Linked DNA regions of Homo sapiens: region 2 is linked to region 1. A link means that fine-mapping ties the variant in region 1 to the expression of a gene that starts in the linked region. Tissue or cell type: whole blood. Region 1 holds a variant in brackets; the other region holds the start of a gene. All regions are shown on one strand. Distances are between the middles of the regions.

Evidence for each region. PIP is the estimated chance that this variant, and not a neighbour inherited with it, causes the effect.
Region 2: FPGT starts here. The variant in region 1 is fine-mapped to the expression of FPGT in whole blood (INTERVAL, PIP 0.96).

The regions. Positions count from the first base shown.
Region 1 is chr1:74,031,962-74,038,296 of GRCh38, forward strand. The region is part of intron 7 of LRRIQ3 (leucine rich repeats and IQ motif containing 3); the gene reads right to left. Among named protein-coding and RNA genes, the nearest start is that of LRRIQ3, 160 kb to the right of the region's middle. The variant T/G (reference allele first, on the strand shown) is at 3,829.
Region 2 is chr1:74,195,404-74,201,738 of GRCh38, forward strand. It overlaps FPGT (fucose-1-phosphate guanylyltransferase), which reads left to right and starts at 2,839. Exons shown (of 4, transcript NM_003838.5): 1 at 2,839-2,957; 2 at 4,261-4,428; 3 at 5,915-6,007. The coding sequence starts at 2,876. It overlaps LRRIQ3 (leucine rich repeats and IQ motif containing 3), which reads right to left and starts at 2,773. Exons shown (of 8, transcript NM_001105659.2): 1 at 2,593-2,773. It overlaps FPGT-TNNI3K (FPGT-TNNI3K readthrough), which reads left to right and starts at 2,839. Exons shown (of 27, transcript NM_001112808.3): 1 at 2,839-2,957; 2 at 4,261-4,428; 3 at 5,915-6,007. The coding sequence starts at 2,876. RefSeq lists a silencer at 2,677-2,776.

The DNA.
Region 1 (6,335 bases):
ATTGCTAAAAGAAATTTAAAAAGATCTAAATTAATGGGGAGTTATATCATCTCAGAGATTATAAGATAATATTATGATGTCAATTTTTCCCAAGTGGATCTATGGATAAATAAAATTACAATTAATATGCCAAGAGCCTCTATGATAGAAATTAGAAATTAACATTTACATTTGTTTTAAATATATATTAATTTAATTCAGATTTATTTTAAATGTGTTAAATTTAAATGTTTTGAATTTATTAAAATTTAAATTTATATGAAAATGCAAAGGTCCTAGAACAACCAATACAATCTTGGGAAAACAGAACAAAGTTGGAATCTATTTTTCATTCCACATAACAATTTACCCATAAATGTATTGGCTTACAACAACCACCTTATAATACCTCATAGTTTCATTAGGTCAGAAGTCCAGGCACATTGTGGCTAGTTGGGTTTTCTGCTTAGGTCTCACAAGGCTGAAATCAAGGTGTCAGCCAGAGCAATGGTTCTCATTTAGGTCTTGGGTCCTCATCCAGATCAGTGGTTGTTGTCAGAATTAATTTTATCATCACTCTTTCCCTGTGCTTCCCTCTATTTTTAAGTCAGCAATATCATGTAAAACCCTTCTTATACTTTGAATCTGATGTTCTCTTTTGTCTCTGTATTTGAAAGGCTCATGTGATACATTGGGCGCATCTGGATAATCCAGAATAATTTCCTTATGTTAAGGTTAATTAAGCAATATTCTTAATTACATATTTAAAGTCCCTTTACCAACACATTCACAGGTGTGCTATCTCATCATATTCATAGTCCTGGGAATCAAGGAGGGCATGGTATCTATCTTCTTGGTAGCCATAATTCTGACTAACACAGCAGCCTTACATTACTTGATTTTAAAGATTATAAGAATTATAAGAGGAGAGTTTATTAGCTTTTTACAGAAAAATGGAAACCTAATCATGAGACAGCAGAAAAGGAAACTGTGGTAAATATAAAATATATAGAATTTTATAAATATGGATATAGGAAGTTGAATGAATTAAAGCTTGAAGTCCTAAAATTTCGTTGGGAAATAGATAAATTATCTTGTTGAGAAGGAGAGGCCATAAGTGGTGTTTGAATAGAAAGCTGTACTGTTGAAGATTTTAAATGGCTCTTGTAGGTAACAGGAGAAAGAGCAAGCAACTGTGGGAGCAGCTCAAGTTGGAGACCATAAAATTAATATTGGCATAAATCTGTGGGGCATTGATTTCTTCTAGACATTTTTATCCAAATACAGGAAATAAAGATAGATAGTTGAAATGTTCCAAGGGTTGTAAGGAACATTTTAGCATAATCAAGGCAATGAAATGAAAGAACTTTAGAGACACTGGAGAGAATGGACAAAATAATAATTGAATTAAAGAACCTCGGAGCCTACACTAGAAATGAAAATAAAAGTGTATAAAGGAGGTTATTTGATGGATGGGTGTCACCATATATTTGGAGGATATGTGTGGTGGAAGTAAAGGAAGAAAGGAGTTGAGGAAGAAAGGAGTTGAAAAGATAGATTTTAGTTATAAATAAATATATAGGAGTTGAAGATTTAAGAGGTGGGGCAGTTCCAAGTGATAAGAGGATCTTTGTATGTGTCTATGGAAATCAGTTTATTAACGTCCGGTAGGATAAAGATTGTTGGTGTCCAAAAATGTTGATATTAGGTAATTGGGAGGGCTGTTCTTATGAATTTGGAAGTTAACAATGATTATGGCAGAAATTGGATGGAGAGAAAAAGCTTCATAAGTCAAAATGATGTAAAGACCACAGTAAATGAAGATGGTAGTATGGGAGGTCAATTGATGACCAAATAAGGACAAGTTGAAGATGATGTAATTGAAAAACCACTTTATTTTCTAGCTCTTCCATGCTAAGTGATACCCTACTTCAAAATGGACACCCTGCTCTCCTGGCTTGAACAGTATCATCACTTTCTCAGAGTACAGACATGAATATCTTAGAAAAACCCCTGACTAGCTTTTATCTGATACATAGATTCTTTCATTTCAAAGTCTATCTTTAATTAATGCTTAAATACTCCTGTGGGTATTTTATTAACTTTCTAAATTAGAGCTTTATGGTTCCCCTTTTTTCTTTTACTCTTTCTCATTCCACATAGCAGGATTAGGGAGCTACATTCTCAATAATGACTTCACTAGTTATGGAAATTTATCAGAATGCTTTTAGGTCAAGAGAATAAAGAATCATCAGCGGAAAAAGTATCAGAATTGAAAAATTTCAGAAGTCTCCAGTTAGATTTCACTTTTTGATCACATCTTCTTTCTGTATATTGATACCTAATCTTTATTTGAAAATATTTAGAGTAAAACTCAAAGATGCCTACTGGAACATACTACTCGCATAACCAAAACATTGCCCTATTCTTATGTGCTCTGCAGGTTAATACTTTTGCAGTAGCTTATGAGAGAAGATAATTCAGTTAACATATATTAGGATGCTTGTTTGAGTCTGTATTCTTTAAAAATTAATTATGGCCAGATATTCATTTTACTGTGAAAAAACTAAGCTGATTAAATTAGATTGATTTGCACTAGATTTGTATTTCAATACATACTAGCTTTCATTTTCTTTTCCAAAATACTTTTTTAAATTAAAATAAGTTATAGGAAATATTTCCAAAGCACACACAGACACACACACACACACACACACACACACACCACAAAGTGTACACTAAAGAAAATGATTTTAAATATGGAGGGGGAAATAAATAGTATTTTTCATACGTAATAAAGTATTACATAAAACACATCAGTAAATAGCTTAAATTGCTTATAAGTAGGAAAAGGCAAATGCTTTTTTTTATTTAAAACTTCTTTCTAGCACAGGCTTTTAAAAACAATGTTGTTTAAAAATTTAAATAAAATAAGCAGTTCTGAAGATCTCTAAATGTTTCTATACAAGCCTTAAATATGTATGTACATAATTTGGCCATTTGAAATAGCACTAGGATAAAACTGTGGCTGACCAGTTTCAATCTAATATCAGAGAAAAAATGTGTGAAAGACTTTGAAAGGGTAAAATAAAATTACTAGGAGTCCTGGCTAGTACACCCTTCAGAACTATCTGTGCCTTTCAATCTCCGTGAACAATTTTACAACTCTAAATTAAGAAAAACTGTGAGCAATACAAATGATTCTTCTTTATAGAGATATAAATAATTGTGTTCAGCTAAGTTACGTTTGATTATTGCCCAGTGAATATTGACTAGTTTTGCACCTATCTGTGAATTTAGTTCAGCATTTTTGATTGCCAATATCAATATAGACATAGAAGTAGACATAGACATAGACATAGATATAATATATAGATAGATAAATGTTCTTTGAATTCTCATAACTGATTTATTCTTTAATGAGTTAAATGATATCTTTGGCATGTGCTCATTTTATATTTATATGGGTCATGGTTTTATGTTCTTAAAAATGTTCCTTGGCAATTAATAAAATTTAAATTGACTAGCTGTAAGTTAAAATATTTTGAGTCAACAAAGCTCCTACTTTACCAAATTTGGTTTAAAACTTTAAAACCTTCACCATAAAACAATTTCTATTTTTGCAATTCTTTGAGAAAGTTTTGTCCAAAGTGTGCCCTAAGAATTATTTTCTGAGATATTTCTTGAAAGGAAAGTTTTATGGTAAAATACATGTGTAAAATGCAATATATCTTTCTGGTAGGAATCCTAATGGTCTTTACTGCACAACTGTCTACTGAGACTTAGAGGCTCTTTTTAATCAAGTTGATGTTTCTCAAGCAATTGCACTGTCAACTACTCTTCATAAAC[T/G]TTCTGCTATAGGTACAGGAATATTCACGATCTCCTTGATCTCCCCTAGCTTTACCTATTTTGAACTTTCCAACTTTGCTTATCCTCTTCTCCTTGCCTCACCTCTCTACTATAATGGTCTCCTCTCACCTCTCTGCTTTTCCAATGTGAATCAACAATTGTACTTCTCCTACTACTATTTTTTGTAACAATTGAAATGTATGCTTATGTTTGCCACTGGACTGTGAGTTCTTAGAGGATCAAGAATATCTTATTCATCTTTGTATGGCAGGGCAAGGGAGAATTTAAGTGAAGTAACACTCTGGTTTAGTTAAGGCTTCTCTTTGAAGGTTTTGATTTTGGAGTAGCAAAAAATGCTGCCCCCAAATATGGCACATTGGCACACTATGTATTTTAAGCTGAAGGAAACTGAGAAACTTGCAGAAGCAGAAAGATTGCTCTCAACTTCCGCCTCCTGTCTTTTAAACACTGTGACAAGTGCCATGCTTTAAACCATGAGGGAAGGAATATTATATAGAAAGGCCAAGAAGAATCTGAACAAACAGGCCTTGCTTGGTACCCCTCATCCCCAGTTTATTACCATTAGGTCATACCCTTTTCTTTTTGTTCCAATCATACTTCTACAAAATTGTCTATTCTTCATCAAATCTAAGCATAAAAATAGTTGTCCCTGGGTCTTCATTTTAGAAAGCTTCTAGGTCACATAACATTTTGATGAAATAAATTTGTTATGCCTTTTTCTTGCTAATCTGTCTTTATTATAGAAGTGTCAGCCATAAACCCATTAATGTACCCGAAATTTTAATTGTCTATTCGTAATGTTTGTGTTATTGCTGGTATTATTATGTAACTCTGTTAATCTCATTGCTTTTTGCCATATTTCCCACCTCAATTTTCAGTTTCTTGGGCCAAATGATCTTTACATGACTACATCACCTGTAAGAGAACTCTTCAAGAGCTAGAAATGAATTACTACTTGAATTATTTGAATTGAAGGTAGGTACTACTTAGTAGAAGCACCAATGATCACAGAGGGGCAGAAAAAAATGTGCAGGGCAAATTTACTGCCATGAATTAAGCACTTGTACTAAGAAGTTTACTTAGTCTAATGATTAGTGAAGCTACTTTCGTAACTTGGTTAATTACATTTTTACTCTATGTTTAATATTATTCTGATTATCTTCATTGTAAAAGCATTTAGAAAAAATATACATTGCTTCTTATTCTAAATGACTTAAGTACAAATATGTAAAAAGCACTCTCTTCTCAGTGGTTGTTATATGACTTAAATGAGTTTATATACAACCTTTACTAATTGAGGTTCTCGCCTATTTTCCTCAAGAAATGTGTGTTGAATAAATTTGTTAACTAGGTACTATACTGGGCATTGAAATAGAAAGATGGAGTGAATAATACAAAGACTTGATTATTTTCTTGAGGGGGTGGGGCCAAAATGGCTGACTAGAAGCAGCAGTGATTGGAGGCTGTCATCAAAAAGAACCATAACTGCCTCCAAATCCTGCACTGGCAACTGAGGTATGCAGGGTCTTCATCAAAACTGACTAGGGCCAGGTGAGGTGACTCACACCTGTAATCCCAGCAATTTGGGAGGCTGAGGGGGACGGATCACCTGAGGTCAGGAGCTGGAGACCAGTCTGGCCAACGTGGTGAAACCTTGTCTCTACTAAAAATACAAAAAACGGCTTGGTGTGGTGGCGGACGCTTGTAATCCCATACTCAGGAGGCTGAGGCAGGAGAATCATTTGGGAGGTGAAGGGTGCAGTGAGCCAAGATCATGCCATTGCACTCCAGCTTGGGCAACAAGAGTGAAACTGTGTCTCAAAACAAAACAAAACAAAAAACAAACAAACAACAACAACAACAAAAAACAAGAACTGACTAGGCAGCTGGTATGACCCATGGAGAGGAAGGAAGAGCAGTGTGCTGTGGTGGCCCACCTAAGAGCCACACGGGGCAGGGGAGCCCCCACACCCCAGTCAAGGGAGGTGGTGAGTGTGCTACCCAGCCTAGGAAACCGTGCTTTTTCCATGGAACTGTGCAACCCAAGGATTGGAGGATCCCACTCATGAACCCATGCCACCGGGAAGCCATGCAGATTCTCAACAGCCACTCAACTAGAATCTGCTTAAGACTCCCAGGGGAGGGGCAACCAGCACCACAGCTGCCGCTGCCTAATGTCTAAGCTGCCTGAGGTCCTTAGGGGAGAGGCACCAGCCAACACTGAGACTGATAGCTGCCTAACACATTAAGCTCCCAGGGCGGGTATGGGGCAGCAGCCATCTCTATAGCTCCAGGATATGCTTTTCCCCTGATGGAGCCAGGGAGTCTGGATAGCTTCGTCCCAAGAGGTATCCCCCACAGCCCAACACACCGGCTGTGGCAGACTGCAGCCAGAATGCCTCTTCAGGCCTGAACCTGACCCATCCCTCCTCACTGGGTGGGGTCTCCCTGCAGGAACTCCAACAACTCCAGCCAGGGGCTCAGGG
Region 2 (6,335 bases), 160 kb after region 1:
CATTCTTCTCTATAATTTCCACACAACAGTCATAGTTATATGCCTGTAGTAATAAAAAAACAGTGTAACTGGCATTAACTGTAAATGGGTTGGAAGACATTTTAATGGGGGGATGAAAATGTTCTAAACCTGTACCTCAATAAAGTTGCTTTAAAAAATCTATCTCATTCTTCCTTATGGCAGCTCTTCAGATACTCTCTACTCTCCTCCTGGAAATAAAAAGCCCAAATGCCTCCACAGAATATAATTTTTCAATTTATTATAGTCTAGTATGTTCAACATCTTTTTAAAAATGTGGAATCCAAAACTAAACAGATTATTTCCTGTGTGTTTGATTTGTGCAGAATTAATGGGCTTACAGCTTGGCTGGATTGATATATTTTACTCTGGTAAAATGACATTCTGATAAATACCTGGAAAAACTCTGTGGCGAATTCTCTAGTATAATAATACTCTGGTAGCTTAAGATGTTAAACAGTCATATCACACTGTTTTATTATAGTGAATATGAACTTAAATAAAATCCCTAAACTTTTTTTGCCTCCAACAATCAACTGCCACGGAAATTTACTCCTACTCATATATATAGTATTTTTTAATTTTTTTTTTACTAAAAATTAATATTAATGAAAATTTGAGAAAAGAAAGAAAACAGAAGCCATAGCTGATAATATGGTATATTTATTTCCAGCAAATTTTGATTGCATGATATAGTCATATTGAGAAAAAATAATATCCAATTTCTATGGCCATCCTTCCCAGATCCAAGAAATACTCTAATATTCTGTATGATACCGTCCTAGATCCAATAAATACTCTATTTAATATTCTGTATGATAGAATCTAACACATCACTCTGTTTGTCTCCTCACAATTGTTACCACTGGATTTTTTATTTGGTTACTTCTTCCTTCTTTATTTCACCTTATTAGAATATACAGACCCCAAACATATAGGCTCTGCTGACCTTCACTCCCTTGGGACCTCACTTAGTTCCACAGTTAAAATTAATTCTATCTTCTTGCTGACAATTCCCAAAATTGTATCTCTAGCCCAGACCTCTCTCCTGAATTCTAGACTCGTATGTATAATGCATACAGACACATACACACACAAACTTCCATTACATATTCACTGCATACACATGTCTCTTTATTCCACATGTCCAAAATCAAATTCTGGACCCTATTACCCCAAAAACCTTCCTCAGTCGGAAACTTACCCATCTTAATTGATGGCCAATCCATCCCAAGGCAGTCATTTTGACTCCTCTTTTTCTCTTACAGTCCACACCCATTAATTCCATCAGCACATTTTATTGTTTTTGTCTTAAAAATATATCCAGAATCTGACCAACTTCTCACCATTCCCACTGCTACCATCCTGGTCAAGCCTTCACCAGCTCTCACCTGCAATATTGCAGTAACCTCCAAAGAAGTCTCCCTGCTTCTATCATTGCCTCATCCCCCATTATAATCTATTCTCCTATCTCCGAGTGATCTCTTTAAACATAAGCCAAGTCACTTCAAAACCCTGCAATGGCTTTGTTTCCCTCAAGAGTAAAAACCAAAATTCTTCCTATGGCCCTTTGTTCTCTCTCTGACCTTCTCTCGCTACTTTCTCCTTTGGTTACTTTCACTCAAGTCTCTGTATTTTCTAAATGTTCTTCAATAAGATACTGTTTTTTTAATTAATGAAGTTTTAAATGTAAAACTATGAAAGAGTAATCTAATCTGCCATTTTATCCAAATGTTTCCACTATTAGAACACGATTGTATAACAAGTCTGAGAAGAAAAACTAAGTAAATTTATGACAAGAGTTTATGGTGCCCTGAATGTCTACGTACCTAATGAAGACGTTGATACAGAGAAATCGTCTCAAAAAATCAAACGGTATGGTGAAATACCACAAGTTCTGGGTTTGGGATTGAAATATATTTCTTAAATCTTTTATTACTTACTAATTGTGATACCTTGACTAACTCACTATTCTCTGATTCAGTTTTCTTCTGTGTAAAGATGAAGTGGTCTGTAAAACCAAGAAACCTCGTGTTCTATAACAGGAACACCTTTATATAGCTACCCAAAAAAACACCTAAAAAGGCTGACTTATTCCTAAGAGTGTTATTGAACATTCTAGATTAATCTGCATATACAAAAGAATGCCAGAGAAGAAACCAAAATACCAAAAATATTTGGAGCCTGGTTGCGGACTGAATTTTATACAACTTTCAAAGACACTATTTGAGAGGCTGTCGTGTGTAGCCTACTAAGAAAAAACAGAGGGGTGGGGTGGCTCACTCTCTAGGAACCACAAACTTAAGGTTCCTAGAAAGAGCAGAGATTTTAAATATTCAGACTGTGTATGTATCATGACCCAGGGTTGGGGGCAGATGGCCCGGGGTGGCGGGGGAAAGGAGAGATGGCGGAGATCTTCTATCAGGCTATCCTGGGGAACTGCTCCAGGCTGAAACAAACCACCAGTTAGGACGAACCGCCTTTGATGTGAAAGCTGGGAAGCTAGAATGTAGTTTCGCCTTATCCTTAGCGGGTCGGTTCTAACAATTTTGTCACCCAAACTGAACCACTCACCGGGTCAACTGGGCTGCAAGCCCTTATGAGTTGGAGACAAGTGGCCCAGCCCCAACACAGTCAGACAAATCGCTGGGCGGCCATCTGCTCCTGAGACCGTTGCTAGAGAAACAAGACAACATCCAAGTTCTCCACATCATGGTTTTCCGGGCGCCAGCCAAGGCGCTCCGGGGGCGTGGTTACGTGGGCGACGCACGGAGGGGGCGGGTCAGAAACAACCGGGCGGAGGCGCACCCCAGGGCGCATGCGTGCTGTGCGGCGCGGTCTCAGGGAAGGTGGGGCTATGGCAGCTGCTAGGGACCCTCCGGAAGTATCGCTGCGAGAAGCCACCCAGCGAAAATTGCGGAGGTTTTCCGAGCTAAGAGGTACCAGAGAAGGCACCGGAGTTCTCCTGGGCAATGCAGAGGGAGGGTGCTTTTACGTGCCAGGAGGTTTGCTGGACTGTCACTTCCCGTTTACTTCTCATCTGTAGGCCTATGACGCTCCCCAGGAGTAGCTAGCTAATAATCCTTTTGAGTTTTTTATTCTTTTCACTGTCCCTGCTTGACATGCTTGTTGCTTACTTTATTCTTAGTAGTATAGATATTAAAAATGAGGGCGGAGGAAGAAGAAGAAAATCTTACTAGTGAAGTTATGCATTGATTAGCTCATTAATAAAAGTTGCTTTAAATAAATCTAAAAGATACGAAGCACAGTATTTTGAACTTTATGAGTAGATGCCAGCCCCCTATCTACTTCACGCTTTACATTACGTTCATCTACTTCTGTAATGTAACCGTTTGTTGAGGGAGTAACAGAACATGGAGGAATTATGGATTAAAAATTAAAAGGAAGAAATTTGTTATCAAAAAATTGGCTATGACACTTAATCCCTGTACACCTGTCTAATAAAAGTGATTATATTTGTGTTGCAGTGACTGCTTAAAAAATACTGGGACTAATTCTTGGATAACAGTAAAACTTTCAGGACTATTAGATTCTAGCTGACAAGTTCTGTTTGTTAACTAATTAAAATGCTAAATCATTTTGTTTATCAATAAAGAGATTCCAACTGTCTACTAAAAGTGCACACTGTCTTTTAAAGATGTCATCAGAGAGTTGGGACCTTCTGTTATCCAGAATTTTATGTTATATTCTAACAGCCTATGTAAGTTTGCATGGTTCATCTTAAAGTAATAGAAAATAAAGTACCCACATTTATAAACAGCAACATTGAGGGAAGGGATCTTTGGGTTGTGTCTTTCTTAGTCACCTAACACCAAGTGTCCGTGATACATAAGAATTGATTTGCAAAGCTGGAGATTTGTTTATGTTTATCTCCTCTTCTTATTGAAGAATTGAGGCAATAGTCTTTGGCAAGTTAAAAGTCGCTCTCTTAATCAAGAAACATTATGTCATTCAGAATTTATAATTAAATTGGATTGCAAACCATAAAAGGAGGGAGTGATCTAAAAGAAAAAAAAGGAACTTGTGAACAGTCTTCATTATAACTATTTTGAATCGTATTAATGCACCACTAATTATTCCCTAACTTTCAAAAGCCAAAGATACATTTTGGAAGATGATAATGGATATTACCTTCTTTATCATCTTTCTCAATAGGCAAACCTGTGGCAACTAGAAAATTCTGATAATTTTTGTTTTCATTTCCTTGCTTTTTCCAAATAGGCAAACTTGTAGCACGTGGAGAATTCTGGGACATAGTTGCAATAACAGCGGCTGATGAAAAACAGGAACTTGCTTACAACCAACAGCTGTCAGAAAAGCTGAAAAGAAAGGAGTTACCCCTTGGAGTTCAATATCACGTTTTTGTGGATCCTGCTGGAGCCAAAATTGGTACGCGCTTTATGGTCAGTTTTATAATATAGGTCCTAAGCAGAATAATCATTGAAGAAAAGGTTTCTGTGACTTACAGTGTATAAGCTGCATATCTCTACCCACAGCTTTACAAACTTTAAAATTTGAACATAAATTGACTTTTTTTAGAAAGATAAAAGGAATAGCAACTGTTCTTACCCATTATGACTTACCTTGAAAAACTTCCAGAATGTTACTTAAAAGAAAATTTTATTAGTTTTAATGAAATTCACACTATTCAGATAGGAATACTCCTTTGGACCTTATCAGTAGAACCCTTGAGGTCCTCTCCACTCCAGAGTTCCTCCAGCAATTTACATGAAGAAAGCAATTAGTGGGAAAAAATACTCTTGACCTCTTAGGGACATAATGCAGAATGCAAAAGAACACTGTCACATGGCTTAAATATAATACATATATTTGAAAACCCTAGTTTAGGTCAACTTTGCCCTTTGACCGTCCATTGCAAATAGAAATAAATGCTGTTTTTCTGAATGCTCTTTTCTATGTGATACTTAAAGTTGAAGCCCCCTGATACCAGAGATAAGATATCTGTATATGACATTAATATGACATTAGCATTATTCTAATTAGCCAACATTATTTTAATCCTTACAACTATGAGGTCAGTACTGTTATTATTTCTTTTTTTTTTTTTTTTTTTTTTTTTGAGAAGGAGTCTTGCTCTGTTGCCCAGGCTGGAGTGCAGTGGTGCGATCTTAGCTCACTCCAAGCTCCGCCTCCCAGGTTCAGGCCATTCTCCTGCCTCAGCCTCCCGAGTAGCTGGGACTACAGGTGACTGCCACCAGCCTGGCTAATTTTGTTTTTGTATTTTTTAGTAGAGACGGGGTTTCACCATGTTAGCCAGGACGGTCTGTATCTCCTGACCTCGTGATCCACCTGCCTCGGCCTCCCAAAGTGCTGGGATTACAGGCGTGATATTATTTCCATAGATGAGAATCTGAGGTACTCAAGAGTTAAGTAACTGGCCCAAGATAACTAGTGTGGTAGTTATATTTAAGATTTTTTTTTGGGAATCCAAGTTCTAAAAATCTTTTTTCGAAAGGAACTCTAACTTGTGTTTTTGATTGTGTCATTTGGGAGAATTATTTAAATGGGCTTTGTGATTTGTAACTCTGTATGAATGTTTATATTTATCAGTCTTCTAGTGTTACAGATTGTGTAATTGATTCTTCTTTCTTATAATTACTATTTTGGGGAGAATATTACCTCATCATTTATTACTGAGGGTTGTTGTCTGGGTTTCATTGCTAATTTATTGATTGGTTGTTTGCTATGAGATGTTTTTAATTTTGTTCTATTGCCAATACCTTTGATGTCCATCTATTTACTTATTCCTGAAAGGCAAATCCTTAAGGTTATATAACACCTAAATTTACTGTCATGACAAAGTTTTAGTAGGTTTCTATTAAATAAATTGTGCTTTTTTAACTTTGTTTTTAAGGAAATGGAGGATCAACACTTTGTGCCCTTCAATGTTTGGAAAAGCTATATGGAGATAAATGGAATTCTTTTACCATCTTATTAATTCACTCTGGTAATGTTATACTTTACTAATTTACATTTTCTTTTTAGTCTTCCACCTTTAATACTTTAGAGACTTTTTTCTTTCTTGCAAACACTTTCCTTCTTTTTTAAAAGAATCTTTGAAGTTATTCTGCTTTGAAAACAAATATTTTATGATTTTCATGACTTTTTTTAGGTTGTAAGTAGTATAGTGATTTTCACAAATTTTACTCGTAAAATTGTAGATCACGTATATCGTCAGTCTTTTATGAATATTGTTTTGTTTTGGGTATGTATATAGAAAATTATTTTCCTAAGACAACTCATTCAAATATGAATAGTTCTCGGGAATACTTTAA